2 separate regions of the Homo sapiens genome follow, and region 2 is linked to region 1. Evidence: fine-mapped expression QTL. A gene starts in region 1. The other region holds a variant in brackets. All regions are shown on one strand. Distances are from middle to middle.

Evidence for each region. PIP is the estimated chance that this variant, and not a neighbour inherited with it, causes the effect.
Region 2: its variant is fine-mapped to the expression of ALDOB in subcutaneous fat (TwinsUK, PIP 0.95).

What each region holds. Positions count from the first base shown.
Region 1 is chr9:101,430,164-101,444,684 of GRCh38, forward strand. ALDOB (aldolase, fructose-bisphosphate B) reads right to left here and starts at 5,611. Exons shown (of 9, transcript NM_000035.4): 1 at 5,546-5,611; 2 at 613-734. The coding sequence starts at 724. LOC105376184 (a long non-coding RNA gene) reads left to right here and starts at 11,980. Exons shown (of 4, transcript XR_001746862.2): 1 at 11,980-12,694; 2 at 12,917-13,043.
Region 2 is chr9:101,451,969-101,469,769 of GRCh38, forward strand. LOC105376184 (a long non-coding RNA gene) reads left to right here. Exons shown (of 4, transcript XR_001746862.2): 3 at 3,410-3,488; 4 at 6,973-7,121. It overlaps TMEM246-AS1 (TMEM246 antisense RNA 1), which reads left to right and starts at 16,471. Exons shown (of 3, transcript NR_121576.1): 1 at 16,471-16,640. RefSeq lists enhancers at 9,254-9,770, 9,771-10,287, 10,675-10,819 and a cis regulatory region at 10,742-10,752. The variant T/A (reference allele first, on the strand shown) is at 4,925.

The DNA.
Region 1 (14,521 bases):
TGGGCTGGGCATATAGAGGTCAGGGTGGAAGCCACCCTCAGGTCCAGGTGGATATGGAAGGCCCTCAGGCCTCTCTAGCCTCCCTGATCTGGTCCTCAGTCTTGCTGGATGTACATGCAGAAGGAGGGATGGGGCATGCTCTTGATTCTCAGGGTTCTGTGATTTTATGGCAGGCTGTGCAACTCTGCCACAGCTCTCCCTTGTGCCATCCTGAGGTTCTCCCATCCATAAGCCCTGTCCTATTCCAGATGCAGATACTTTCCTGCCCTTCTTGACTCAACTGAATTTAAACTGACTTTAAACTGACTTCTCACTAGTAGCAGATGCCTGTGTATCTGACCTTATGCTAGTTACTAAGTTTCTGGCCTTACTACAAGGCTGGATTCAAATGACCCCTGGCTTAAAATGAAGGGCTTGAGCCTCTTTCCTTGGCTTTCAGGAATGTGCCTACTACTTACAGGACTCAAAAGCTCTACGCTTACTGAGTCTTCTGCTCCCACTCCCGTGTACATAAACCTTTACTTCCATAAAGAATATGATTATCAAGTTGTTTTTGCTAAGTGTAGAAAAAATAATATGTTGTTATATGATGAGACTGCTTTTTACACTCACCTACAGATTCATCTGCAGCCAGGATCCCCTTTCCATTGGCAACAATGCTCTGGGCAATTTCTGAGAGCTCCTTCTTCTGCTCCTGGGTGAGGGCTGGAAATCGGTGGGCCATGGTGACAGGTCTGGAAAAGAGTGTGCGAGAGTTGTGCACAGAACCATGGGTGGCTCAGATGGATGCATGACCAAGACAGTTGGGGGTGCAGACATGCTGTGCAGACCTCTGTGACACCTCTGACCCATTTCCACAGGTGGATAAGCAAATGAGGTTTGTTTTTCCCCCATCACTTATTAGTTGCAATTAGCTGCAATGAATGAAGGTGGGTTACTGAATGTTCATGGTGATCCTAGACAGAATGCTTTCCAGCAGGCCTTTGGAATCACTAATCAAAACACTGAACCAGCTAATTAGTGACCCACTAAAATATGACTAATAGAGGGGACTGCAGTAATGGACTGTCTCTCTATTCTGTGGACTCCTGGTGCCACTGGATTTCCTTAATGGCTTGAGGCCAGGACAATGTCGCTCTTGACCTCTGCAGTTATCCTCTGCTTTGCTCTGTTAGTCTGTAGTTCCAACAGATTATTCTCCAGGAAACAAACTTGAAAGGAGAAATCTATACATAGTCTTAAAGCTAACTTCCATTTGGCCTCGGGCTACAGAGGGTTGGGTGCAAGTTTCCTTTTCCTTATATTCAACCCTCTATGAAACCACTTGGGGCAGACCAGAGAGGATGTTTCCTAAGTGCCTCTGGGCTTGGGTTTCTCACTGCCTATGAGGATGCTAAAGTTGTATGGCAGTCCCTGCTCCAGCTTCACTGCTTTAGCAAGGGGAGACTCTGGCTTGAAGACCCCCTAACCAAGCAGCCTCCACAGTGGTTGTGCTCTGAAGGAGATCGTTGCCCCTGTTCGGATGCCACTTTGGGTTAATCTTGAAAATGCAAGCTCAAAGAGCCCTCACTTTGGGTGTTACAAAGAGTGCTTTTTGCATAGGTTGGGCTACCAAAGAAAAAATGGTAATGAAGATTATCTTGGGTAGCTTCCTATCCAATGCCAGGGTCTCCTCCTTTCTCTAATCTTCTCTCCCTCCAATACACTCAGCACAGGGTGGATGCTCCATGTCTACATATTACTTCCCGGAAGCCCAGGGACACCTCAGGTCTCATCTGATCCATTGGCAATGAGGTAATTATAGCAGGTATTATCTTCATTAATTAATGAGCAAGCTAAGACGTAGAGAAGCTAACTGACTTGTTCAAGGTCCCAGCTAGGATGAAGCAGAGTCCCTATCCAGTCCTGTCCTCATGACAAATATATTTCTCCACATTTTCTGCATCCCTTCAGGGTAGGCTGTCAGTACTCTGTCCCTTGATATAAAAAGTCAGTAGCCACTGAGCTAATTCATGAGAAGGTATAACTGATGATCTCATTGTTGCCTCTCCATTTCAACAGAGGTTCTTGTCTTACCCCAAAAGAATGAAACTGCAATGCTGTTACTGGGGTAATAGGACAAGCTAGTGGGCAACAATTTCTAGAGAAGATGACCTTCTAAGGCCCATTATGTCCCAGCCACCAGCAGAGCATGTTTGCCCTGTTTATATATTAGCTGTAATATTGGAGTCAAAGACTTTTAGCTTTGGACCTGGCCTCCAGATCATCATGCTGAAAAAAGCCAACCTGGGTGTGATCTTCAGAGCAAGGTGCAAACTTTCTCTCTCAGTTTAGGCATTTGTACAAAGGAGTTGACAATTACCAAGAAAGAAAGATATTTTCTTAATGAAACAAAAGGGAAAATCAGCCCAATAATAATAATAACAACAAGTGATCATGTATTGTCAAGCACTCTGCTAATGGCTTTACATGCACTATATAATTTTTCTTGAAAATAATCCCAGAAGGTGGTTGGGCTCTTTTCCCCTCCCATTTAATAGATTAGGAAAGAATATAAGAGAGTGTAAATTATTTATCCAAGGACAAATAGCTAATAAGGCATCAAGTTGAGATAAGGGGCAGTACTCCTTTCCATTCAAGGGAAAGAGTGAGCTTGATGAAAAAAATGGCCTTTGGATGACTCCTAATGTCCTTGATGACACCCCAGAGTACCTTACGCTGTGGGTGATTACACCATGGACATTACTTATTCATAAACATCTGACACATTTATGTAGAGGTTTGCTGCTAGCAGATCAGACAGACCTAGTTTTAAGAACCAGCTCTGCCTAATCTAGCTGGAACCTCAGGCAAGTCAGGCAGCTTCCTGAGTCTCAGTTTACTATGGATTAAATGGTGATAATAACTGTTCTGGTTGTCTCTTTGCCAGGTAACTCAAATGCCATCTATGAGCACCCTGCTCATTGTAGTTGCTCAAAATATATTTGTTAAATTGCATGATAAACATGAAGATTCTTTACAAAGCACTATAAAATGCAATGTATTACTAATTCTCTTTTTTTAATGAAAAAAATCACCTAAGTGACCTCCATTTTTCTGTTTACTGCCTATTACTAAACTATTTTCTTCAATCTGGGTATGCTGACTCAACCAGAATAACAGTGAAAATGATAATTCAAACTAATACTGTTTACAGGGAGTTAAACTTCTACAGTGGGATTAAAGGTCTGTACCACGTTAGCACAAATGTCACCTCTCTGTTAATCATAAAACAGGGTCACAGGCCAATGTTCACCACAAGGAGACAGGAGGACAACCTGGGATGGGTAATGACAAAGAACGATTTCCGTACTCCTAAGCCTCTGCTCTCTCAGATCTCAAGCCAACTTTTTTCAGTGTGATGGAAGTTGTTCACATTATATTATTAAATGAAAAACAAGTTTCAGAGAAGTATGCAATATATACTGTCCTCCTATTTTTTAATTAAAAAATGATATATACCCATACTGTTTTTGTGTCTATATAAACAAAGAGTAACAACTCTGGAGTTACCTCTGAAGAATGGGGTAGGGTGGAGAGATTCTCACATTTCTTTTCTTTTTCTTTCTTTCTTTTTTATTTTCTGAGACAGAGTCTTGCTCTGTTGCCTAGCCTGGAGTGCACTGGCACAATCATGACTCACTGAAGCCTCGTCCTCCTGGGCTCAAGTGATCTTCCCACCTCAGACACCAAGCAGCTGAAACTACAGGCGCCTGCCACCATGCCCAGCTATTTTTTTTTTTATTTTTGGTATAAACAAAGTCTTGCTATGTTGCCCAGGCTTGTCTTGAACTCCTGAGTTCACGCGATCCTCCCACCTTGGCCTCGCAAAGTGCTGGGATTACAGGCATGAGCCACTGCACCCGGCCACATTTCATTTTATACATTCTTTATCACGCACTTTATTACATATGTGTAACAAGTAATATGTATATAAATCTGGAGGAAAGTTGTATTAACAACAGAAGGTAACCACAGAAAAACAGAGCTACAAATGACCTCAGAGATACCTGCGTCAACCCTGTCACTTTAGAGATGAGGAAACTAAAGCCAGAGAGACTATGTCTGATGTGCCTTCTAAGTTGTGATGTTCTAGGATTGCAAGTTACATCCTATTGGCTTATGACTTAGAATTCTATTTCTAATCCTTCAGCAAAATAGCAGGTAGAATCCTATGGTATGGTTCTTTCTGCCTTCCTTGAAGATGTTCTGTGAAAACATAATTATTTGTAACATGGATATTTAATTCCTGGAGAAATAGAAGGCAGCAGAAAGTTCATTTGCTTCTCTATGTACAAGACAAATGGATTTTTAAGGCAAATATGAGGAGGCTTATTTATTGATAGCCCATGATTTCTAGGCACTGCATGCAGCACTTTTGTACATGATGCTTAAAGCTGCCAATAGCTTCATTATCCACCCCAATGTCCCAGTGACAAGTGCAGTGGGATGATCTAGGGCAGTCCTAGGACAGCCTGATTTCCAGTGCCCTTTAACACACGCGGAGCAGCCCAGAACGAGTCCTGAATGGTGCTCTTTCCTCTAAACTTGGAATGAAGCCAAAGGACCTCTTAGATATTCAACATTTCCCCATTCCCTGCCCCAGTATCTCTGGCTCTAACCTGGGCCTGGGTGCTACCCAGATGTGCCTTAGCTAAAGTGATGAATAGCAGGGTAGCAGAGTTCAAGCTCTGGTGCATCCAAATTGTCTAATGGAGCCCTAGGTAACTATTTAAAGAGAAGTTATTTTTTAAAAAGGCAACATATTCTCACAATGCCTATTTTTCAGATAGTAGAGCAAATGTATCAAAATACACAACCTTTTGATTCCTACTATCTTAAGCTGTAGGGTCTTCACAGTGTCTGGGGCCAGCAGGAAATGTTCTAGAAAGTGTCAAACATGAAGGGTTTGGAAATTCATAATCAAATGATGACTATGCTCTGTGAAGTTTCCAACCCTGTTGCATTTCCTCATTTGAGCAGTGGGTGAAGGCGAAGGGCAAAATACTCCAAGGGTTTGTTTCTGTGACAAAGAAACTTCAGTGTCGGTACCAGTAGGTGTGGGAAGAGAATGTAGAAAATGACATAAGGCAGTAGATATGTAAATAAATCACTAAAATAAGTAGTTGTTATGAAAAGAGAGTTGAGAGTTGAAATGAACAGGAATCTCAAAAACTGATTAGAACCTAACGATAGGAGTGTTCAAGTTGTTTTTCCTAGATCAGAGACTCACAAGGGCCTCATTCAGGTAACACAAGTAACTGGCAATCAATCTTGGGCATTTTGCCACCTCTCAAAAAGTCAGGAAAGGTGTGAATGAGCATTTATACTTAGAGAGAGGAAAACAAGCATTTCCCTCCAAGCAGAGCCATCATGTTTTCAGCCACCATCAAGTTTTTCCCGAAAACAAAGGCAAACCAATCTTCCCTTCTATAAGCTTAGTAGTATTATTAACCCCTTATTCACTGGTGCTGTCCAGGTATACAAAGGAAGCTTTTTTACTTACAGTTTGGGAGAGAAGAGTCCTCCTAGATATCAAAAGCTGTGGGTGAGGCAGCAGCTGCCAAATAAGACAGATCTTTGGTAGCACACAATTTTTATAGACTTCTCATCATGTTTTTTTTTTCCAATATTTGCCCTCCCCTTTCTACCTTGACCTAGTAGGGAGGTGTTTATTCAACACCTCTGATTGGCTCATAAACAACCAGTCCTTAAAATCATGCCCATATACTCCTTATGCTCATAGAATGTTAAAGCTGCAAGGAATGTCTTTAGACCGTGGAGTTCCTAATCCAGACCCTCCATTTCACAGATGAGGAAACTAAGGCAAGGAAGATAAGGAGGTTCCCTTAAGTCATACAGCTAGTCAATGATGGAGCTCTAGGGTCCATTAAATGATACTAGGAAGAATGTTAGTGTAGCTGTAACACTTACAAAACACATGAACTTGGTGACGGGTTTTTGGTTTTGTTTTTTACTTGTCTGAGCCGTTATTTTCTTCTCTGTAAAGTGGGATCTCAATTTCACAGGAGCATTAAGTGAGTTGTATAGTGTCTGTACGCAGTAGGCATTCAAGAATTATTATTTCCAAATTAGGTAATCAATGCTATATTTTCATTATTTATCTTCAGTATATCATTAGTAGTCAATTCCAACAATTTATTCTATAATTTATAGTTAAATTTAAATAATCTTTCAATAAAAGAAATTGATTCTGAATCCTTGAATTTCCCATGTGTGAATTTTGTCCAAATTGGAAATAAAATTCAAAACATTCTGTTTTTAAAAATCATTGTCTCTCCCATCTTCTCCAGTCCTCCAAAACCTAGCTGGGCTTTCTGATGTATTTAATGCCAGAAATCATTGTTTTGTATTCCCATTCTCTTTTAACCTTTGTACTTTTGTCTTCAAATTTGGTTAAAAACTAGAATTAAAGTGATTGAACTAAGCCATCAACACCCCTAAATATGGTACTGTCTGGGTATGGGTTCATTCTGCAGGGCTTTTTCCTAAGTATGAAACCCAAATTTAATTCCAGAAAAGGTAAATAAAAATATTATATGCTTCCAGAGGCAAATGATGAATGAGGCAAATAAATGAGGGAAATCTAAAAGTGATGGAATGACCGTAATTACAAAAAAGGGTAAATTCTCATGAACATGTTCCTCTGGAATAATTCATAAAATGGAAAACAAAACTAAGATGCTTGATTGTGCAGAGTGTAACACCAGAATTTATGGATGAAAAGGTGAAATGTCAACAAAATGAAGGAAAAAATAAACGGAACTAGGTGATCTAAAAAGAGTTTTGGTTTAGTTTTGGTTGTTTTTCCTAGATCAGAGACTCACAAGGGCCTCATTCAGGTAACACAAGTAACTGGCAATCAATCTTGGGCATTTTGCCACCTCTCAAAAAGCCAGGAAAGGTGTGAATGAGCATTTATACTTAGAGAGAGGAAAACAAGCATTTCCCTCCAAGCAGAGCCATCATGTTTTCAGCCACCATCAAGTTTTTCCTGAAAACAAAGGCTTCTGAGAACAGTAAGTATTCATCACTGAATGTGAATATTGAAGGAAATTGAAGTATTTGAAACACAATATTGAGGCTCATTTGGCTAGGGAAGTTCCCACCAAGCCCTGTCCTGAGGATAGTAGAGGGATAGACCAGGGAAAGGTCCTATCAGCTCCCTTGACTCCACTTAGTATCTGATGGCACATTTCCTGGTTTCCCCATCTTCAACTGGGCTCATTGAAGCACCTGCTACCATATTTGTCAGACCAATGTGACCAGCTTTGGGGCTATGTGAGGTTTCATCCTCTATGATTTTTGGTAAAGGAGAATGGAGGAACAAGAGGTGGATGGTGATGAAAGAATAGAGAGTGGGTGTAATGAAAGTTGTTAGGAGTCAGGGCTGGGGTAGTCAGAACCATAGCTAAAACATTCTACCTGCTGAGAGATGCTACTAGTACTAATTATTCTTGTTATACAACAATAATAGCTATCCTTTTTTTGAGAGTCTATGATGTACCTGGTTCTTTTCATAAATTATCTCCAATATCAGCGACTCTCTGAAGAAACGCTTATTACCCCCATTTTATGCATAACAAAACTCTGGTTCAGAGAGGGCAAGTAACTTGTCTAGAGTCACAGTACAGGTAGCTGGAGAGTTTGTCTCATTCCAAGACAGTGATCTAAAGCAGAGCTGCTTACATTTTGGTAACTGCAGACTCATAAATTAGCTCTTTCCCTATTGCCTTCTCAGCAGTTTATAACCTTGGACATTAAACTTTCATTAATCAGGGAGGAATGACTTGCGTCAGCAGACGTAGGTGTCCTTGGTGAGCTGGGCATGGCTCCATGTGAACAACAGCCTGGCTAGGAATGTCAGAACAGCATGAGTACTCCTGCCCTGAGTGCTGCCACTTGCTGCTGTTCTTGTAGCATCAGCATTTGCCCACCTCTGGGGCTTGATGTGCAACTGAAACTCAAAGTTCAGGAAAACAAAGCTAAGGGCTTACTGGACCTTAGAGAAACAGCAACTCTTGACCAACATACACTGCTTGCAGGGTTTTTGTTTTTATTTTTATTTTTGTTAAGTCTCCTAACACAATACAATGTTCAAAATTGAGTATTATATGTGGAAACAGCATTGGACTTGGAGGCTGTGAAACACTGGGAAGTTCTTCAACCTTAGTCCACAGTTTCCCCATCTGTAAAATGAACTAGGAATGCCTCTATCAGAAATGTATTATGAAGCATGAATGAAATAATATATGAGTGGCACTTTGTACAGAATAGGTTTTCATTAAATAGCTAGATCTGAATGCATAACTGGTTTAGAGGCCTTTGATTGTAGGATCTTAAAATAGGCAATGTAACAACAATACTATTCATGATCGTTACAGTCAATACTTCTAACAACAGCCTCGCTTATTCTCTACTCCCTGCCCAACTCTAGATATTTCTTCTGGTTTGAATGTGATATCTATATAAGTCAATCCACAGGCCATGAGATAAATGTGTTATTAATGCATAACATGAGGTCTGAGTCATAAGCAAACTTCTACATGCAAATAAATCTCACATATTATAGAGTTACACTTACTGTAGAATTAGCAATATTATAGAGAAAGAACTTTCATAAAAAGAGACCACATTACACAATGCAACTGGAAGAATCACGATTGGCATTTTAAAATATATTTTCCAAACTGTGGTACAGATATTTCCTTATCATATTGCAATCTGCTTTGGTGGTTGGAATAGTTTCAGGACCCCAAAATCAGTAGTTATTACTTTGGTCTAGAGATAGAGCTATGTTTTCTCAGCATGGCTCTCAAAAGTGTTTTGCTGTTATGTGTATAAGGCATTTTGTTAGCTATGGAGACTTTTTAGAGGATACGAGGTGAGTAAGACTGGCCTATTCTCAAGAAACCTGCATTCTAAAAGGAAGAGAAGATTGAAGTTGAGAATCAAATAAAATCAAACCAAATACAAGAATGTACATAAAAACACCAAGAGATTGTTGTTGTTGTTGCTGCTGTTGTCACTGCAGCATTTATGGATGACTGTGTGAAGTAACATTAAAGAAAAGTCCTATGAAAAGCCCAAATATTCGAGATTTTTTACAAGGCCAAGTCAATTGATTCAATCTGTCAGACTGTAAGACCTAGGGGGGTAGGGGGTAGTAATGTCTTACCAATGTTTCCTCATTATCCAGCACTATGCCTAGACACCAATCAACTTTTGTGGAATAAATGAATCAATAGATATATGAGTATCAATATAGGTGTATATTAGTATCAATCTCAGAAAAGTCTAGAGTAACTGGCTTATAATTCTCATCCCAGAGAACTTTGAAATAAATAATAAGTAGAGTATGAACATTCCTTTCTTCTAAAACTATACTAGGTTCTGAAAACTCTTCTATCATTGCTCATTTGGAATTTCACAGGAATCCAGGCTGTAGTGCCTTGCAATGGTACACAAGAACCACAGCCTCCCTACTTTCAGTAAATTCTGGTACAACACACATAACACAAAATTTACCATCTTAGCCATTTTTAAGTGTTCAGATTAGTAGCATTAAGTGTATTCACATTGTTGGGCAACCAATCTTCAGAACTCTTTTCATCTTGCAAAATTAAAACTCTATACCATTAAACAACAACTCTCCATTCATCCTCCCCACCACCCCCTAGCAACCACCATTCTGCTTTCTGTCTCTATCAATTTGACTACACTATGTACCTCACGTAAGTGAAATCATAGAGTTGTTGTCTTTTTGTGTCTGGCTTATTTCACTTGGTACAATGTCCTCAAGTTTCATCCACATTGTAGTGTGTGTCAGAATTTCCTTCCTTTTTAAAGCTGAATAATATTCCATTGTATGCTGCATTTTGTTTATCCATTCGTCTGTTGATAGACACTCGGGTTGCTTCTACCTTTTGGCTATTGTGAATAATGCTGCTATGAACATGGGTGTACAAATATCTTTATTTAGACTCTGCTTTCAATTCTTTTACGGTTTTATTGAGATAGAATTCACATAGATACAATTCACCCACTTAAAATGTACACTCCAATGGTTTTTTTAGTCTGTTCATAGAATCAGAGTATTAGATGTCAGTTTGTGAGAGAGATGTGGTAGGTTTTTAAGATGCTCCAAATCTGACGGTATAAATAGTTTTAAAGCACCACCATGAAGTCCAGGAGCAACAGCCACTGGGGTGCAGCAGATATGAGAATGAAAGAGTCATGGGTCCCATTTCATTTCCTTGTGGTAATTTTTTTAGATGCTCTTCATCACTAAGAAATCTGAACTCTGTGTATTCTAGGAACACTAGAGTGCCTTGTATATTCAAGTATCCAGGGTAAGTAAATTCAATAGTATCCAAATTGTGGGGCTTAAAAATACCCCTTTGACTAAAGAGTAAAGCTGATGCTTGAAGTATGTTGAAGAACTGGAGGATTTCCTTGTCTGAGGAAATATGGACATGCAGTTAGGATGTTGCAGAGGCAGAGTGAACAGGAAATAATTTCACACTCAGTGACGAGTATTTAGCTGACAGGAAAGAGTTACACAGTGGTCTGAAGTGTCCACCAACCCCCATTTCTCCATATGTCTTTGAATTGGGTTGTTAACTGCCTTGTCAGTGTTTTCTCTTTGTCTTTTGCTCAATCATCTCAAAGTTCAGTTTTTCCCTATCTAATCAGGTTGTTAATTACCTAGGTCATTTATGACCCCCAGCACAGTATTTATTTCACTCTTCCTTATAACAACTTTTCAGAAACTCTTTCATAAAACTTTCATAAAACTCTTTGGCATTAAGGTGAGATGGCCTTTTGCTAGGGTGGAAAAATCTCTAGATAAGGAGGCATGAGGTATGTGGGTGCTGAGTCCAGTTCTGCTGTTGACTGGCCATGGAGCTGAACAAAGTCAGCTTTTCCCAGCCTCCCTTCTCTAACGTGTAAAGTGGCCTGATAATACCACTACTGCCTAATTTTACTGTGTTGTTGCGGTGATCAAACGATATCATGTAAATTAGTGCTCTGAAAACTACGAAGACCTACATAAGTGTAAAATATTATAAAGCGAGCATTACACAGCTGATGCCTGTGTGTGCACATACACATGCACACACACACACACACACACGCATGCACACACAAGTTTGAGAATCAGAAAACAAGGTTTTGGCCCTAGCTTTGCCTTGATGACATTGCCCACTGGAGCGTATTCCCATTAGTTGAGCACGTACTATTAGGGAGACTTTTCTGGGCTCTAGAATGTGTCATTTAATCTCCACTACCTCAGCAGCATAGGCATTGTTTTGGAAAGGGGGGAGATGATCTGGTATCTTCCCCAAGGTCCCACCATTAGTAAGCAGCAGTGTAGGGACTGAAACACAGATCTATGACTCTTAAGCCAACCAGGGCTTTGAATTCTTATCTATACAGCAAAATGGGGGTCTCTTCTAGCTGTGCTATTCTGTGGTCTTTGCTGCCCAAATTGCGTGTTTTTGAGATATATGGTTACTCTAGAAAAAAGAAAATAATTTTAAACAGTAATATAATAAATATAGATTAGAAGATAAAATGTTTTCAGGCCAGGCACTGTGGCTCATGCCTGTAATCCCAGCCGTTTGGGAGGCCAAGGCGGGTGGATCAGCCTGGCCAATATAATGAAAACGCATCTCTACTAAAAATGCAAAAATTAGTTGAGTGTGTTGGTGGGCGCCTGTATTTCCAGTTACTCAGGGGGCTGAGGCAGGAGAATCGCTTGAACCCGGGAGGCGGAGGTTGCAGTGAGCAGAGATAGGCGACTGCACTCCAGCTTGGGTGACAGAGCGAGACTGCATCTCAAAAAGAAGAAGGAGAAGAAGAAGAAGAAGGAGAAGGAGAAGGAGAAGGAGAAGGAGAGGAAGAGGAAGAGGAAGAGGAAGAGGAAGAAGAAGAAGAAGAAGAAGAAGAAGAAGAAGAAGAAGAAGAAGAAGAAGAAGAAGAAGAAATGTTTTCTGTTGAGAAGTGCTGTTGGTATGGATTATTTATTGACTCTTACCTAGAAATCTTCAGAATGCTGGTATGTATGGAAGAAACAGGTAGTTCTAATATCCTGCCTCTTTTCCTCCAGCTATTTGGATTTCCTGCATCTCACTTCAGCACCCTTTAGGAATGAAGAATGCCAGCCTGACCAAATCCAGAACTACACTTTCCTGGAAGCCTGGCTAAAAGTCCCAGACTGGCAAGGGGCAAGCAGCCAGCAGCGTGTGCGGGTGGCAGGCCTGTCAGTGGCCACCTCAGTGCCACCTGCTCTCACACAAAGTGAAGAATGGAGCCACTCCGCTTCCCAGGTTATTAATCCAGTCACCTACAAATTCAACTCTCTGCCCTTCAGAAGGTTCAGCTATAAACCTTCTTGGAGTGCCAATATAACTTAGTTATTAAGAATGTGGACTTTGAAGTCAGATCAAACTTGTTTCAAATTCCAGCCCAGAGCTTTTGGGCTGGGTTACTTTGGAAAAGTTCTCTAACCTTTTTGAACTTCAGTTTCCTCCTCAGCAAAAATAATAATAATAATAAAACGTACCCTACAACATTGTTGGAGGATTGGGTTGAATAATGAATCAAAGTGTTAAGCATATACCTAGCAAAGGTAAGTACCACATAAATAACACGTCCTGTGATGATCATTGTCACTATGCCTTTCTCCTTTCCACATTCTCCACATTCTTCTCTCCCTCTGTCACCAAAGAGAAGTCCTTTCAAAATTTTTGCTCCCACAGCATTCAATCTCATCTCATTATCTCCTGTGTCCTTCATCTGGAATCTTCCATCCCACTTCCACCCTCAAAAGATTTCTCCATTTATTATGTAGAAAATGAAGCTGGAGCCTGAGTTCATCTCAGAGGTTGTATACTCGCATCCAAGAAGAGTACCCCTGTAGAAGGCAGTGGGGAGCTACAAATAAAGAAAGACTTCATCCCCTGTTACATAAACCAAAGGTGGGTATAACTTACATTCAGAAAAGATGGAGAGAAGTAGAAGCACGTTTGAGGAAAATAGAGAAAATGGCAATATTATTTGTGGAAAGTGTAAAAAGGAATGAAGGAGGGAAGATAAATAAAGAGATAAGGCCTTGCACCCATGTTTCCTGAGTTAGAAGCAGATCGGGCAGCTGGAAGACCCAACCTTCCAGGCAGGCAGACAGCTGACCTCGTTAGCACCCCTCCGCCATGTCATTCAAGGTGTGTGGCTGGCCTGCACCAGAGCACGCCTGTCCTCCGTGGCACAGCTGACTCTTAGGCGTGCTAGATCCCCCACTGGGGTGCCAGATGGAGGTGTAAATAAGAGGCTGGAACAAGTTATCTCTGTGGCAGGGAGCCCAGGAAAATTCGTCCAATTGCTGGCACTCCAGCAGGAGGCTGCATGCTCAGTGATCATGACCAGGCAGCAGATGTCCTGGCTTCCTTGGAGGGGAGAAAAGGAGGGTATTCATGCTCTTGCAATTTATTTCCTACCCAGACCCAGGGCGGGCCTGCTCTTTTTGCCACTCCGTTTAATGGCTTTTCTTTGGGTCATTTGCCAAGTGAGAACAGAGACCCTCTGATCCGAAGGAGGAATGGAAAAGCTGTCAGTTAAAAAAAATGGGAAGAATAGAAAGGCAGTCATTTATTAAAAAATAATTATGTTTTTTACCATATGACCCAGGAATTCCACTCCTGGGTATCTACCCAAGAGAAATAAAAACATACATCCACGTAAACACACACCCTAGTATGCACAGCAGTATCATCCATAACAGCCAAAAAGAGGAAACAAACCAAATGTTCATCAACTGGCAAATGGATAAACAAAATGTGATATATCCATACCATGGAACATTATTGAGTCATAAAGAGGAATGACGTACTGATACAAGATACGACATGGATGAACCTTGAACACATTATGCTAAGTGAGAAAAGCCAGGCACAAAAACTCACATATTGTATGATTCCATTTATATACAATATCTAAAATATACAAATCCACAGAGACAGAAAATATATTAGTATTGCCTAGATCAGTTAGGGCAGAGGGAATGGGGAGTAACTGCTAATGTACATTGGATTTCTTTTGGAATGACAACATTTTTCTAAAATTAGATAGTGAAGCTGCTTGCTCGACTTTGTAAATCTGCTGAAGACCATTGGATTTTGTGCTTTAAATAGATGAATTTTATGATATGCAAATTATGTCTCATACAGCTGTTAAGTAAATGAATAAGTAAAAATATAATAATTATATTCTGGGATGTTGTGGTCAGAGAAAACAAGCAGCTACCTCTTGCTCACAGTGTGTGAAGGTAAATTTGCCAGTCATTTCTCCAGTGCCCTCTCCCCTCCTCCAACCCCAAAGGCATAGTCTCTGACATCTTCTTCCTCAAGATGCATGTACTCCCTTATCCATCCTGGACCTATGAGGGAAGCTGCCTATAGAG
Region 2 (17,801 bases), 23 kb after region 1:
ACACTTTGGAGGGCGCAGAAAAGACAAGAAAATGTGGGAAAGTGTGGAACTCCCTAGAGACTTGTCGAATGGCTTTGACAAAAATGCTGGTAATGATATGGACAATGAAATCCAGGCTAAGGTGGTCTCAGATGGACATGAAGAACTTTTTGAGAACTGGAGCAAAGGTGACTCTTGTTATGTTTTAGCAAAGTGACTAGCAGCATTTTTCCCCTGCCCTAGAGATTCATGGAACTTTGAACTTGAGAGAGATGATTTAGGGTATCTGGCAGAAGAAATTTATAAGCAGCAAAGCATGCAAGAGGTGACTAGGGTAATGTTAAAGGCATTCGGTTTTAAAAGGGAAACAGGGCATAGAGGTTCAGAAAATTTGCAGCCTGATAATGTGATAGAAAAGAAAATCCCATTTTCTGAGGAGAAATTCAAGCCAGCTGCAGAAATTTGCATAAGTAACAAGGAGCCAAATGTTAATCACCAAGACAAAGGGGAAATGTCTCAAGGGCATGTCAGAGGTCTTCACGGCAGCCCCTCCCATCACAGGTCGGGAGGCCTAGGAAGAAAAGTTGGTTTCATTGGCTGGGTCCAGGTCCCCCCTGCCCTGTGCAGCCTAGGGACTTGGTACCCTGCATTCTAGCCACTCCATCCATGGCTAAAAGGGGACAATGTACAGCTTGGGCTGTTGCCTCAGACTTTGGAAGCCACAAGCCTTGGCAGTTTCCATGTGGTGTTGAGCCTGCAGGTGCATAGAAGTGAAGAATTGGGGTTTGGGAACCTCTGCCTAGATTTCAAAAGATGTATAGAAATGCCTGGATGCCCAGGCAGAAGTTTGTGGCAGGGGTGGGGCCCTCATGGAGAACCTCTGCTAGGGCAGTGCAGAAGGGAAATGTGGGGTCAGAGTCCCCATACAGAGTCCCTACTGGACAGCTCAAGTGGAGCTGTGAGAAAGGGCCACCATCCTCCAGACCCCATAATGGTAGATCCACTGACAGCTTGCACAGTGCGCCTGGAAAAACTGCAGACATTCAACATCAGCCAATGAAGGCAGCCAGGAGGGAGGCTGTACCCTGCAAAGCTACAGGGGCAGAGTTGCCCAAGACCATGGGAACTCATCTCTTACATTAGTTTGACCCAGATGTGAGACATGAAGTCAAAGGAGATCATTTTGGAGCTTTAAGATTTGACTGACCTGCTGGATTTCGGACTTGCATGGGGCCTGTAGCCCCAATGTTTTGGCCAGTTTGGAATGGCTGTATGTACCCAATGCCTGTATCCCCATTGTATCTAGGAAGTAACTAACTTGCTTTTGATTTTACAGGCTCATAGGCAGAAGAGATTTGCCTTGTTTCAGATGAGACTTTGAACTATGGACTTTTGAGTTAATGCTGAAGTGAGTTAAGACTTTGGAGGACTGTTGGGAAGGCATGATTGGTTTTGAAATGTGAGGACATGAGACTTGGGAGGGGTCAGGGTGGAATGATATGGTTTGGCTGCATCCCCACCCAAATCTCATCTTGAATTTCCATGTGTTGTGGGAGGGACCTGTTAGGAGGTAATTGAATCATGGGGGCAAGTCTTTCGCATGCTGTTCTTGTGACAGTGAATAAGTCTCACAAGATCTGATAGTTTAAAAAGGGGAATTTCTCTGCACAAGTTCTTTCTTCTCTTGTCTGCTGCCATGTGAGACATCCTTTTACCTTCTGCCATAATTGTGAGGCCTCCCCAGCCATGTAGAAATATAAGTCCAATAAACCTCTTTCTTCTGTAAATTGCCCAGTTTGGGGTATGTCTTTATCAGCAGTGTGAAAATGGACTAATACACACACACACACTCACACACACATATATACACACACACACATACAGTTTATGTCACTATTATACCTCATTGTAAATGAATAACTAGTCTTCTGGATCTATGTTTTTATCTTATGACCCTGGTTAAGATGATTCACTCTGAGAAATGTATCTGTTCTGAGCCTATAAATAAAATCCAGATATGATGCTGCAGGGCTGTAGTTCAAACCATATGTCATGAGAAATTTACCCTGTGAGGCCTGTAGTCTTGTCCTTTTGATCCCTGGATAAACCCAGACACTACCCCCATAGTTGAAAAAATGCCACTAAATTGCATTATATGTAGGGTTTTGCATTCTGCTTTTTTGTGTTCCATTACATCTTGAGCATTTTCCTATGACATAATCATAGAAAAACCATATCTGAGAATGTAATTTTTAATAGGTCTATAATATTCTAAGATATATATATATACATATATATATGCCTTTATTTATTTGACTGGTAGTGTGACAAGTCCCCCACCAGGATACTTAAGGGTATATGTCTGCTGCCTGAACCCTGAAGACTGGGCAGTGACTCACAGTCATGATGCCCTGCAGAGAACTAAACAAGTGTCCCTGAAAACCCAAATATCCCGGAGAGTATCTGAGAACCTACCAAGAAAAACAGTCTCATTGCTCAAACACAGCAGGCAAAGAGCCAGAAATTAGCTTAAAAGCAGTTTAGAGATGGGAGGTGGTGCGGATCTCGAGAGCTGTCCCGCCACCATCCAGGAGTGCCCTGTGCATAAGTCCTAATAAACTCATCTACTCGTTAAGCTGGACTCGTTCAAGTCATTCTTTGGTCTCTTCATTCCTTCTCAGTTTGGAGGGAACATTAAAGTTCCAAGTTTTTCTTGTAACAAACCAACTTCTGTTATTGGAAGTCTGCCTATTTCTAATTGTTTGCTGTTATTATACATAAAGATGCAATGAATAACCTTATAGGTAAAGCTTTTTATACACCTCTGCTTTTTTCATTCATAAACTTCTAGGACCAGAAATATTAGATCAAATTGAATTAATGCTGTGGCCAACTGCAAATTGTTCCCCAATATCCATTTTCCCCTTCTAAAGTAGTAGAGTTTTAGCTGGGTCTATAGCTACGTCGTTAATGATATTTCTATATAGCCAGCCTGGCAGCTAGATGTGCCTGTGTGACAGGTCTGGCTAGTGGGATGTGAGTGTAATGAAATGATGTGGGCCCATTAAAGAATTATGCTTTGCCAGGCATGGTGGCTCATGCCTGTAATTCCAGCACTTTGGGAGGCTGAGGCGGGAGGATCACGAGGTCAGGAGTTCAAGACCAGCCTGACCAACACGGTGAAACCCCATCTCTAGTAAAAATACAAAAATTAGCCTGGTGTGATGGTGCACACCTGTAATCCCAGCTACTCAGGAGGCTCAGGCAAGAGAATCGCTTGAACACAGGAGGCGAGTTTGCAGTGAGCAGAGATCGCGCCACTACACTCCAGCCTGGGTGACAGAGTGAGACTCTGTCTCGAAAAACAAAAACAAACAAACAAACAAAAAGAATTATGCTCAATTCCCTGTCATTGTTGTTTTTTCCCCAGCTCTTTACTGGTGAGAAGATAGCAAAAGCTGAAGCAGACACAGAATCCACAAGTGGAAAATACAGCAGTGCCATTAAAGGTAATAAAAGATAAAGTTTATCTTTCTTCCAAGCTCTTTATTTTAATTTCTTATAGGATTTTTGTTACTTTTTAATGTTGTTTTAAGTAAAGAAGACTAAAAGTTTAAATCAGTATAAATTTTCATTTTTATATTGTGCCACACCCATTTTAAATGCAAATATAAGAGCACTTAACTCGTGTCGAATCACAAAAATTACAATTTGTATTTTGTGGTTCATACATGGATATGTAGTTCATTCTTACCAGAAGAGTAGGAACAATGCACACACAAAAAATTCAACTGTTTTTATTTCACTGCTTGATAAAATATGTTCTATCAACATGCTTTGCCTTCTACCTACTGATGAGTAAGGAAGGACTGACAGGAAAAGGAACTACAGGTTACCCTATTGTTCCCTTTCTGTGTTATTTTCAAAGTAAGTTCCTGGCTGATACAGGGAAGTAGCACAAGTAATAAAGGATGTGGTGGGGTTCCTTTGTTGTTCATGTTTCTAACAATGCCATTGCTTTCTTTCTGGAACAGAAGCAAGTCTAGTTTGAATGGAATGCTTGGCCTTTTGGGATCTGTCAGTACTCTCTCCCAGACCCCTGTTAGTCATAGACATAACACACTTAACTTGTACTCACTTGGAGTCTCCCCAAACTCCCATGCATCGTGGGTCTACTGGGATTCTGTGGTCAGAGAGCATTGCCGTTACTACATTCAAACATGGTGGCATGACATGATATACCTACTGTGAATGACAGGTGTCATACAAAGGAAGGACAGATGCACCTACTGTGTATTCCTCTGTTTATGTGCATGCTTCATTGTCCCATTGGATTTGACTTACAAAATACAAATTCAAAGATGAAATTATGAAGAATTTCAAGATGGCAGCAGCAGAGCATTAGGCTACACATTGGGCCCTTCTGATTGTGGGGCTCTGTGTGACTGCACAAGACAAACCCTCATAAAGCCAGCTCTGGGTGGCGGAGCCCTGGACTGCCTGCCTACTGGATGTTAAATGAGATTGAAATAAATTTTGACCTAGTTTAAGCTGTTGTATTTTGAGGTCCCTTTTATACACTTTGCATCCTGACTTATGAAAACACTTTTAGTTCTCAAAACGTACTGCCAATTGCATAACAAAGAGACTATGTCCCTATGTTTAGTTAACACCCCCATGAGCAGTATATGACCACAAATGTTTCCCTCTGCTCTTGCTATTGTCTCTATTTTGATATTTCAACAGCATGCCCAATTCAAAATGCCCCAAACCAAACTCATCTCTCCTCCAATATCAAACACAGACACAATATCAAACACAGCAACTAATATTTATTTAGCTTTTAACATGTACCAAGCGTTTTGCAGGCTTATTTCATTTATTAGGTATCATCATTCATTGTGGCCATTTTCCAGATGAGGAAATGGAAGCTTATGTAACTTAC[T/A]GAAGGTAATACTGAGCTGAGATATGATTTCAGTATTTATGGCTCCAAAGCCTATGAGCATACCACTTGTCTCTCCTTTTCTATGATGGCAAAATAATTCCTAAAACAATGGTGGTGTGATTGGGAAAAGAAATGTTTTTCTTTACATCTTGCAGCAAATCAATGTCTACAATAAATTCAGAATTCTAGTATCCTGTCAGATCACTCTGTTCCCATCATTTCTACCATTGCCAACACACCCTGAAAACTAGTGTATTCACCTGGGAGAGTTTGCTCAGGGAAGCGAGGGTTTTTAAAAATCCCCCTAGTGACCTCTTGTGGCTGATGGACACCCTGCTGAGACCCTGCCTCTGGAATCTACCTGGCTTGCTGCTTCATGTTCACCCCTCCCCGGGCTACAGAAAAAGGGCTCCAAGGAAATCAGAGTTAGGAAATGGGTCGTCCCTGGTTTCAAACAAAGGGCATCATTCCAATATGTGTCAAAAATAAGCTCAGAAAATTTGTAAGAGAGATGGGTTTTCTGTTTCCTGGACTTGCCTTTCATATCTTTTTTCTTTCTTTCTTTCTTGCATCCTCTCTCATTTTTCTTAATTTAGGTGAGGAGAAAATGTTGTAATAACATGTAAATCAGATTAGATAAATAATGATGCTGTAACAAGCCTGGTGGCATAATAGTATATACGAAGGTGTTTACTGAAGTAGTGATTTTAACAGAAAATTTATCTATCAATCTATCTATCTATCTGAAGGAGATTTTAAGTGATTGTATTACCTTTATACCGTGAAATACTACAAAGCCATTAAAATGTATATATGAATACACACTACAGACATACAGACATACACACACATACAGGTGAGGAAAAGGGTGCAGGTAAAGAAACTAAGTTACAAAACAACTTGCATGTTATCCCTTTTTTGTAACACTGGATGTATGCTTCAATGTAAAGAGAAGATAAATTCACCAAAATATTAACTATGGTGATCATCTCAGAGTGGTGGAATTACAGAATTTTTTTTGAGACTGAGTCTTGCTCTATCGCCCAGGCTGGAATGCAGTGGCATGATCTCGGCTCACTGCAACCTCCGTCTCCCAGGTTCAAGCAATTCTCCTGCCTCAGCCTCCTGAGTAGCTGGGATTACAGGCGCGCACTACCACGCCCGGCTAATTTTTGTATGTTTTAGTAGAGACAGGGTTTCACGATGTTGGCTGGGCTGGTCTCAAATTCCTGACCTCAAGTGATCTGCCCGCCTTGGCCTCCTAAATTGCTGCAATTACAGGCATGAGCCACTGCGCCTGGCCAAGGAATTACAGATTTTTAAAAAATTATTTACAGTTTTCTGTATTGCAGTGGTTCTCAACTTAGTACATTAACAACCTATGAAAAATCTGAATGCTCAGCCCACTCTAGACAAATTAAGTCAGAACTACTGGAAGTGAACCCAGGTTCTAGTAATTTTTTAAATTACCCAGATGATTCAATGTGCAATCAAGCTTGAGAATGAGTATATTGTTTGAATGCTTTACAATCAGTGATCATGTTATAAAGCAGAAAGAAGGGAGAGCCAGAAGAAGTTATCTTCATTTTGCTAATTTATGTGCAGTGTGCATGTGTGTATACTGTGTATGCAGTGTGCATGTGTGGCGGTTGCAGACAAACTAAGGCTAAAGCTGGTAAAAATCCAAAGGAACACAGTAAAGTCACCTAGTTGATCATGAAATCTGGTCAGAAAAACCTGGCTTTGTTTCTTTGTTCTAATACTTCCTGGCTATGTGACCTTAAGCAGCTCACTTCACCTGTTTGAATGTCCATTTTCTTTTCTAGTAAGAGTAAAAGGGAAATTCTATTCCCATAGAATTGTAGGATTCAGTGTCATATTGCATGAACAAGGGCTATGTAAGTTGCTAGTTATAATATGTGGTGGAGTAAAGAAGTAGAAAAGAAAGCAGGAGAAATAACTGAGCACTGAAAGACAAAATATTAACATTCCAGGAATGTTAATATTTTTTGTTTCTCCTGAATGCTTTATTTCCCTAACAAACATAGTTGCTGAGGGCCCGCTTTGCACCAGACACCATTTTAAGGGATAGAAGAGAAAACCTAATGACAGTCTGATTGCCGTCAAGAGGCTCACATGTGAAAGGGAATGAGGAGCTGCAACAAATAGCACAATGCGGTAAGTACTGTAAAGACGTGTGCCCAAGGCAGTAAGAGGCGCCAGTGCCTCTTTCAGAGAAGGGGAGGCAAGACTTGTGAAGCCTACAGAGAGCTAAGATCAGGAAATACTGGCTACATGCTTTGTTCTCTAGGGGGAGCTCAAGGCTTTCTCCTTTGATATCTGAATGGAATCAGTACTTCCAGTGAGAAGGGTGTATGTAGATAGATAAGTTGAACTGTGTTAGGATAAATGCTCCAATGCCACTTGATCTTGGAGTTCTTTCTTGTTAGGTATTTTCTATTGAATGGCGTCTTCCTTTGCTCCCGTGAAGCTGGTTCTATGGAAAGACATTGGGTTATCCCTCCCAGTTAAAAATGTTGCTCCCTCCACTTAGAAGACTAAGGAAGAACCAGAGTGAAGGAAGCCCCATGGGCAGGAAGAGGACTCATTTGGGCTCAAGACATTCAGTCCAACCTAGCTCACAAGGATGGATGAGATCATGATTCGGGACCATAACTTGTCACTTGTGCACATACTCTAAACGGTGGCGTTTTTCAAGGTATTGAAAGGAGGTGGCAGGATAGGATTAAGAAATTTGATCCAGACAGGCTTATCAAATTCACTACAACCAACAGATGGTTCTAGATTTTTTTTTTTTCATTAATGTTTCATGACTATGTGCTCTCGATTTGAAGTTTCAAGGTCCTCTTGAAGTTTTTTTTGTTTGTTTTTTTAGACAGGGTCTTGCTCTGTCACCCAGTGCAGTGGTGTGATCATCATGGCTCAATGCAGCCTCTTACTCCTGGGCTCAAGTGATCCTCCCACTTCAGCCTCCCAAAGCATTGGGATTACAAGCATGAGCCACACACACCTGGCTCAGAGTCCTCTTGAATCTGGCAAAAACTTGATTTGGAATTTTCTAAAATTTCTCTTATTTGTTGTAGCAACTGTATTTCATGGGAAGATATTTCTCTGATAGATCGATGCTCTTCTTTTTTATCTCTTTGTATCACCTATAAATGCTCCCATTTGCACACTCTTAAAGAAGTAAGCTTAGGATAGTTTCTTTTTTTTTTTTTTTTAGACGGAGTCTCGCTCTGTCGCCCAGGCTGGAGTGCAGTGGCGGGATCTCGGCTCACTGCAAGCCCCGCCTCCCGGGTTCACGCCATTCTCCTGCCTCAGCCTCCCAAGTAGCTGGGACTACAGGCGCCCGCCACTACGCCCGGCTAATTTTTTGTATTTTTAGTAGAGACGGGGTTTCACCGTTTTAGCCGGGATGGTCTCGATCTCCTGACCTCGTGATCCGCCCGCCTCGGCCTCCCAAAGTGCTGGGATTACAGGCGTGAGCCACCGCGCCCGGCCAGGATAGTTTCTGATTGCCTCACATGGAAAGTTAAAATGTAATCTCTCAGAGTTTTTGTGATGTCTAAATGAAGGCTATATAGACAATTTTGATTTTTAAGTTGTTTTTCTTTGTTACTTCGGGTATCAAACTGGGGATAGTGTGGAAACCACCAGTTCCTGAGGTAGTTGTGGCTAGGAAATTCACTTGTATACTAAAGAGCTTCATTTTTTTGTTTGCTGTGTAATTAGAAAGTAACTGGGTCTATGCCTTTATTCTTTGCATGGCAAGGTTTGCCTTGTTAGATACCAGACAAGGTAGCACCCCGGATATTTGCCAGGCATATTTATCCTTGTCAAAGGCACATTGGCAGTAAATGACACTGAAGGATCCTGCTTGGTATGACTTCGGTTATCAAGTAAACTGTTGCAGAGTTGTTGGGGGGATCCAGATATACCCCCATATCATCTCTTGCTTCACCTCATCTCTGACCCTAGCCCCTGAGTAAATAGGTGGGTTCTGCTGGGGTCCACTTCTTGGTTAGCTGTTCCTTCTTCTGACTGAGTTGTAATAGATAGGACTGGCCACTTTTTCAAACTAATCTCATCTGTATTGTATCTTGCAAAAATTCCCCTGTCTGTAGCATGTGACTGACCCTTTTCATTGATTTCTAGCACAGTATAGTGTTCTTCGTACTTTTATCTTTCGTGGCTGATAGAGGGAATCTAACCGTTTGCCGTAGAGGAGATTAGATAAGACTGCTGATGTCAATATTGTGCTTGGAAGATGTTTCTTCTGAATCTCAGTGGGGGGTTCAGAAACTTATCACCTCTCCAGTAGCTTCCCATCACACTGAGAATAAAATGCCAGCTCCTAACTGTGACCTAAAAGAGCTTCCTTCTCCCACTTCATCTCTGACCACTCCCTCTTTCTCTTTGTACCCCAGCCATACTGACCTTATTGCTCCTTAAACAGGCCAAGCTATGTCCTCCTCAGGAACTTATGCTACTCGCTGTGCTTTCTGCCTGGAATGCTACACTCCAGATTTTTACATAGTTCACTCATTCATATCATTCATATCCCTACCTAAATGTCATTTCAGAGAAGTCTTTATAACACCTTATCAGAAATAACCCACACAACTTCTACATCCTTAAGCAGCTTTGCTTTTCTTTATAGCACTTATCACAATCTGAAATGCTATTGTGTTTTTTGTTTTGGTTTTGTTTGAGATGGAGTCTCACTCTGTCGCCCAGGCTGGAGAGCAATGGCACGATCTCGGCTCACTGCAACCTCCACCTCCTGGGTTCAAGTGATTCTCGCGCCTCAGCCTCCTAAGCAGCTGGGATTACAGGTGCGCACCACCATGCCTGGCTAATTTTTGTACTTTTAGTAGAGACGGGGTTTCACCATGTTGGACAGGCTGGTCTCGAACTCCTGACCTTAGGTGATTCACCTGCCTCGGCCTTCCAAAGTGCTGGGATTATAGGCATGAGCCACCATGCCTATATGAGCCACAATATGAAACACCCATATTGTGTTTTATCTGTATACTTTTTAAACATTTGTTTTCTTGCTAGAATGTAAGCTCTATGGGGTCAGGGACTCTTGTCTGTCTTGTTTCTTACTCTGTCCCCAGACAGAGTCCCCAGACTCTAGAATAGTGCCAGGTGCCCAATAAGTTTTTGTTGAATGAATAAATAAATGAATGAAAGTTAGCTTAAATTCTTAAGAGTTAAATGGGATTTTGGCTATAACCTCACCATCTACAAAGCCTGGGAAAAGAAAAAAGAAAAAAACTAGTGCTGAATCCAATGTTTAGGGTTTTAGTGTATTGCTTCTTCTTTAAAGGAAGGAGATGGTGCCTGAGACTAGCCTGGGTGCTGAGACCACAACTCAGGCAATTTAAGTTTATGAAGGCCGATCCCACCCTACCCTTTCCAAAACTCTAGGACTACTTGCTGGAATGTGTATTCTAAAATCATACTTCTGAATATTTTTGAAATTGAAGTGCATCTTATAATAAGTATACTCATTTATTTTGCTTTTTTCCCCTAAAAAGCTGTTAAGGAAAGCTAGGGATATGGTGTGTCTTTTATAATTGAAGGCTTCTTCAGTTAAAAAAGACAGTATTTTACAAAATTCCTCATTTATAGAACCTTAGATTGATAATGTTACAGCTAGTAGGCATTAAAGATCCAGTGAATTTTAAAGCCTTTTCCATTTTTTTCCCCTCTTAAGCCTGGTCTTTTTGGAAAGAAATCTTTAGAGAAACTATAAACAAACCAGTGGATAAAAGCACAGTGGGGTGATAGGTGACTCAGCACGCTCACCCCTCCGCTATGCTGACCTACACTTTCAAGGGAGCTTCCGGGAGAGTAATTTGAAACTTAATGGAAAGATACAAGCCGGTTCCTTCATCTTTGGCTGGTGCAAAAACCAGTGTTAAAAGTCTTTTATTAAACAACAACTTTATGAGATATAATTGACATAATAAACTGCATATATGTAAATATAACATTTGGTAAGTTTCAACATGTGTATACACTCACGAAGCCATCACTGCTATCAAGACATTGAACATATTCATCATCCCGAAAAGTCTTCTTATGCACCTTTGTAAATTCTTCCTCCCTACCTCACCTCACCTCATCCCCATCTCCAGGCAACCCTTATTTGCTTCATGTCACTATAGTGATTAGTTTGCATTTTCTGCAATTTTACATGAATGACATCATACACACTTTTTTTAAATCTGGCTTCTTTCAATCAGCATAATTATTTTGAGATTTATCCATATTGCTGCACATATCAATAGTTTTTTTCTTTTCATTGCCGAGTAGTATTCCGTGGTATGGGTATTCTCAATCTGTTTGTCCATTTGCTGCAGATGGACATTTGAATGGTTTCCAGTTTTGGGCTATTACAAATGAAGCTCTATGAAGCTCTATGAATATTCCTGTATGAGTCTTAATATGGACACATGTTTTCTTTCATTGTTTTTGTGTAAATACCTAGAAGCCGAATGGCTGGATCTGATCATTGGTATGTGTTTAACTTTTCAAGCAACTCCCTACTTGTCTTTCAAAGTGGCTGTACTGTACAATAGTTTCAGTGGCTACATAACCTCACCAACACTCAGTATGTTCAGTTTCCTAAAAGTTTAGCCATTCTAATGAATGTGTGGTAGTATCTCATTGTGGTTTTAATTTTCATTTCCCTTATGACTAATAATGTTAAGCATCCTTTAATGTACTTATTTGCCATTGTTACTGAGCAAAAGAGGCTCCTTTCCCAATGTGCTAGAAGCCAATGCTATGATACTGGGTTTTTGAGAAAAGAAAAACTTTTTTTTTTTTTTTTTAAGACAGAGTTTCGCTCTTGTAGCCCAGTCTGGAGTGCAATGGCTCGATCTTGGCTCACTGCAACCTCCGCCTCCCGGGTTCAAGTGATTCTTCTGCCTCAGCCTCCCTAGTGGCTGGGATTACAGGCACCCACCACCACACCACAGCCAGCTAATTTTTTGTGTTTTTAGTAGAGATGGGGTTTCACGATGTTGGCCAGGCTGGTCTCAAACTCCCAGCCTCAGGTGATCTACCCGCCTCAGCCTCCCAAAGTACTGGGATAACAGGCGTGAGCCACCGTGCCCAGCTAAGAATAACTTTTGATTGCAGGTCGACCAACAAGGAGACAGGTGTCCAACTCAAATCTATCTCCTCATGCTGGCTATAAGGCAATACTTTTATGAAGGTTTAGGGGATGGATTCTGGGATTTACCCCTGATTGGTAGAGGGAAAGGGGAGGTCTGGAAAGTCCTCTGGCATGCAGTTATCTCTTCATGCTACCTCCTGGAATACATGTGCAAATTTGGGGGAAGTTAGTATGAAACATGCAGTGGAAATTCAGGCTGTGATGTCAGCAAGCTTGTTCTACACAGACTCCAGTTGGCCATAATGGTTCCAACCGATTTCAGCCAGTTGTTATCCTACAAGCAGAGAGAGTTTTCGTGTTTCAGCGAGTTGTTCCTTTTCTTATCTGCCATCCTGAAAACTGAAGAATTTCTGTGTCATATTTTTCTTTAATCATTTGCGACACTGTTCCACAATCTTCTCTGGTGGCGTGTTTGTAATCGCTACTTACGTTTTTTAATTGCCCTCATTTTTGTTTTTGTTTTTAAGATTCTGCAGTAATGACAATTTTTTGAAGCATTGTCTATGCTATTTGTCTATTCTAAAATTTTGTTGACAGAACTACTAAATAAATAGCATTGTTAATGGGAAACGAAGGAGAACTGTGTTAATCTAACAGAGAACTATCACAATAGGTTATTTATGGCACAGACAGAGGCTGTTTACACTTATTCAGGCTGGTAGAACTGACGGTGAATGGGTGAAAATGATGGCATATTATTGGGAGGCAATGGGAGATAGTGAAAGAAGCCAGAAAGGGGAATATTGATTTTTGCCCCATCCAAAGTCTCCCCTCCCACACTGCCTATATTATGCCAACCCTTCATAGTCTTTCCCCATCTCCCCAATTTTTTCATTATTATGGATTTTTTATTTTGTAGCAAATATGTTAAGGAGATGAAGACTAGCTCAGCAGCAGAATCTAGCTATTGGCTATTCATTGAGATAAGCTTGCCAAGAATTTTCAATAGTGGACCACGTGATCAGAAATCCATGTGTTGGCAAAATAAAGTTTATATTGATTTCAGTATTAGTGCATAGCAAGTTTTATGTTAAAAATAAGAAGAACTTTATACAAAAGTGCAGTTATAAACCTAGAGTTTGAACTTGTCCTCTAGGAAGCACGTAGTAGAGTGAGGACACTGACCTAGGTTGGGGACAAAACTGTCATTTTGTCATGGAGTAGAATGAATGTGATCCTGGGGAAAGGACTGAAGGGCTTGGGCAAAGGGGAAGTGAAGATTATATTCAAGATGAATAAGAAGAGCAGAAGCCAGCTCTCCTCCCGTTTCCACCTTGGTCTGGAGAGGAAGAGGCGTTTCTGCCACCCCCATCCCCTCTGTCTTCCTTACTTTTTAACTTCTTCCAGAGGGAGGAGGAATTACTCAAGTACTCAAAGCACAAGGCAATTACCAAACCACATTTCGCTAGAGGGCAGAGTCTCTAAGCTGATGTTCCCTCATTGGCAATTACAGTCCCCTTATTGCAGCACACTGGGAAAGGGCGTGGCCGTTCTCTGTCCTGTGCATATGTACTATGTGCATAAATTGTATTTGGTCTGTTCCAGATCTTTTCATCACCCAGGGTGGAAGTGAGGGAAACCTTCCTTAGGTTTCCAAACCTACATGGTATAATTTGATTTGGTTTAACAAATATCTCTGCCCTGGGAGAGAAATGGGCGCTTAGTTAATAAAAAGGTATTTTATTTTCTATTTGGTATTATTCTCATGTGCATATTCCTTAATTAGAAATCCCTGAGTGGTAGGATTTCATCTCCTAAACTGAACCCCTGACACTAACATAATTAATCTTAAACAAAATTTCTATCCAAAGGGAGCCAAAAAAAGAGGCAATCTTTTTCTAAGCTTGTATCTAAGCCAGAAGGACTACAACTAGGGTCAAGGTAACAGGACAAGTTCATAGGGTAGATAGTGAAACCAGGTTCCCTTCGTTGCATCATCTATGGAAAGAGGACCATCATTTATCCATTCACCCACTCATCAACCAATCCATCCTTTCATCCATTCAGTCGTTAACACATTTCTGAATTCCAGGCACTGGGCTAAGACTTCATAATACAGTAATAAACAAGTTGGTTATTGTTTGAAGGAGGATGGAAAAAAATGGGGAAAGAGGGTGTATGTAAATTTGTCATGAAATATATATATATATATATATATATATATATATATATATATATGAGTCAGAGAGAATGGCTCATGGCTCATACATATATTATATATTATATATATATAATGACTCATATATATAATGACACACACATACACATACACACACACACATGAGTCAGATAGAATGGGAAAGATGGCACAGCATTTTCTTCCACCCTTGACCTATGTTGGAGCCTACAACAGAGTGTACTCATGAGAAAGTTTTTGAGATTCTGGATGTAAGCTGTACTGATTGGAAGATCAAGTGACAAAACAAAGCAACAGTTAGAAAGAGGGTCATTGTTTCCACTTTCCCCCAGGACCAAGTACTGACCTGTAAAGTAGATATCACTAGTATTCACCAAAATCTGTTCTTCTCCCTTTTCATATACATGAACCTCTCTGCACTTTTTAGCCCTCTTGCAGTTAAAGTAGAGCCATATTGATTAGTTCCAGCATTTGCAGCCTGAAGCAAAGAGCTAGTGAGTAACCACCATCAAGTTATCAATTTAAACCTGCTTAGTTGACCAGGGAGGCTTCATGGAAAACAGCTGTCCTAAAGGGTTGCCCAGATCTCTGTTAGATTTTGTGTCAGCAAGAAATAAACTTTTATCATGGTAAGCCACTGAGAAGACACTGGGTCTTGCTGCACCAGTCTACCACAGCCTGGAGAACTGATATTTGGGGAAGCATTAAAAAATAGTACCCCTGGCATAGGCACTGGTGGTTTCAAAATAGCTACTATAAGTGGGGGTAAAAGAGAGGCCTTTCCAGTTACTTTGCAAGGCAGTGTGGAGCCAGAACAGGAAAGGAAAGATAAAATCGATGCTCTGTAATGACTGCAGCTAGCAGACTTCTTTGTGCATACATACATGTAAGGTAGCTTTTTGCAGACTCCCAGAAATATTTAGTAGGACTTTTGGGGCTTGAGAAAGAGTGTTATCAACAAAGGAAACTCTGCATTATTTAATCTTAACATGACTGCTTACATCCAAAGACTGGCGACACATGGTGTCTTTAGGTGCTAACTGAGCTGTGGGATCGATTTCATTAGGGAGAGGTCACAATTCTGTTTCTAGTTGGCAGGAATGATTTTAGTTCCTGTCTTCATCCTTATTCCTTTCTTGAAGAGTAAAGGGTCACACATTGCTCAAATCTCTAGAAATTTCAGGATCTCCTGGGATTCATGTCAGACCCCCCTATATCTTTTCTGGGATACTGTGTTTTTTTGGAGAAAATAATTTAATTTCATTATCATGGTTTTTCTTCTTGAAACTGAATACAGACAGGAAAATACTTTCTGATGCAGATGTATTAACATTTGCATGCCAAAAAGAGCTTCAGAAATTTACAGCATGGTTTATACTATACATCAAAATCCATATGACTACTTTCTAAAATTGTGAATTTATTTTCAAAAAAATAAAAAGCTCTTCATGGGCCCCAAATCATCAATTCAAGACAATTCCACAATAGGTTGAAAATAAGCACAAGCTTCCGTTGCTATCTGGTCAATCCCATGTCCAATCTGAATTTGATTATCTGTATTTCCTTGAAAGTAGCAACAATGATCTTATTGTTTCCATGATGTTTCATGTTCAGCTGTTCAGATGTCCTATCGTATGAGAAAGAAAATGCAATCTAATGGGCCGCCAGGAATCTAAGAAGCTATGCCTCTCAAAGCCCTTTGATATCTTCAAACAATTAATCTTGTAGCAGCTAGAATATATTTTCAGTAATGTGCCTAACTTAACTATATGACTATATTAAAATAAATCTCCATGTTACTTCAATTTCTAAATAAAATGGCATGAGCAGAAAGGATATTAAAAATCTTGATCACTTCCCCCAGCAACAGGGCAGTTGCTGTTCACATTTTACCCAAGAGCTATCTATGTGCCTCTTCTTCCTAGCCAACAAAAGCCCCATCTTGTTTAGATGGTGGGTAGGGAGCCAGTGAGATCATAGAAGATGGGCCCCTATCCAAGCCCCAAGAGAATTAATTGCAACTGGGCTTGTTCTGTTTTCCTTTGCCTGTGATTGGTCTAGGAGTGGGCATGTGGCCTATTTCTGGCCCTATGAAGCAAAAGGAGAGGTCTGCTGGGAGACTTCCTGAAACTGCTCTTCCTGGAAGGAGGGAAACAAACAAAACAACAACAAAAGAACTTTACAAGAGAAAGCTTTTTATCCCAGCCCCTTCCTACTCCCATTGAATGCAGCTCTGTGAGGACACGATATTTGAAGCTGCAGTAGCTGAGGTGGCAAAAGATGGCAGAACAGAAGAGCAGACAGAATCTGGGTCCTAGATGACTTCATTGCACTGCTGCAACTGCCTTCTCCAGACCTCTTGCCAGGTGAGAAAATTAAATGTCATCATTGCTTAAGCCCCTGGGAGACTAGATTCTGTTACTTGCCACTGAATGCATCCTAATGCTGTAACTGTCTCTTGCACTGAAACCAACTTGCAAAATTTACAGCACAAACTCTGCCCATGTATGAAGAGAATGTAAAAAAGCATTGCAAACATCTCTTTTGGGAAAATAAATGGATAACACCATTTTTTCTTTTCATTTGAGTTGTCCTATCTTTGGCAAGTGAAAGCTGAAAAGCAGAATTTTCACATATAAATCAAATTTCCCCATTTCCCTCCTGGCAAGGGGTAAGAAACTCTTAGCCCATACATGCTTTCTAATTAGTTAAGAATTGGATTTCAAGCCCTACTCTTATTGTTCGGTTTATTCTGCTTAGTTCATTCAGATAAGAGAATCCTTGAAGGTAAGGTTTAGGGTAGTCAAACAGTTATGAACAATGGTTGTGAATTATGACATATTCCAGCATTTTGGAGCAGCAGCTTAGTCAGCTATCCTCAGAGCCAGTCTGAGGACTCTGACCAATACCAGTGTGGGTTGTCTAAACAAATTAATTTTTAAAAGTAAGGAATGTGTCTTTTCAGGCCTGTGGTTCCCTATGGAAACACTGACAAGAACAGGTGGAAGAAATATGTGGTCTTCGGTTAAAAACTCTTCAGGGTTCAAAGAAGGGCACTCTCACATCATGTGATGGGTGAGCTCTAGTCATTCTGTGAGAGGAACTCCAGGAGACCAGATCCAACTCGCAATCAGCTATAGTGAAGTTATGATATGAGAAGCACCAACTTGGCACAAGACTTGGGAAAGGCAATGAGGCAGCAGGCAAGCTTTAAGGGATGACACTTACCTTGAGGGAGCAAGGACAAGTTGTGACCTTCCCAGTCCTCTCTCCATTTGCAGATCAGCAAGCTTCTGTCAGCAAGGAGGGGTGGACAATGAAACTGGGTTCAGCTTGATTTGTTTTTTGAGACAGGTATGGCAAGGGGCTGCCAACAAGGTAAGTCATCTTTGGACAAGCCAAGTGCTTTGGGAAACAATTGTTTCTGAAAATAAGTGTTTGTGTCAAACATTCTCTTTGTTAGTAGGAGACATTTTTGTTGGATCATGTTGTCCTCAGCAAAAGAGGTTGCAGAGAAGTTAAGGAAG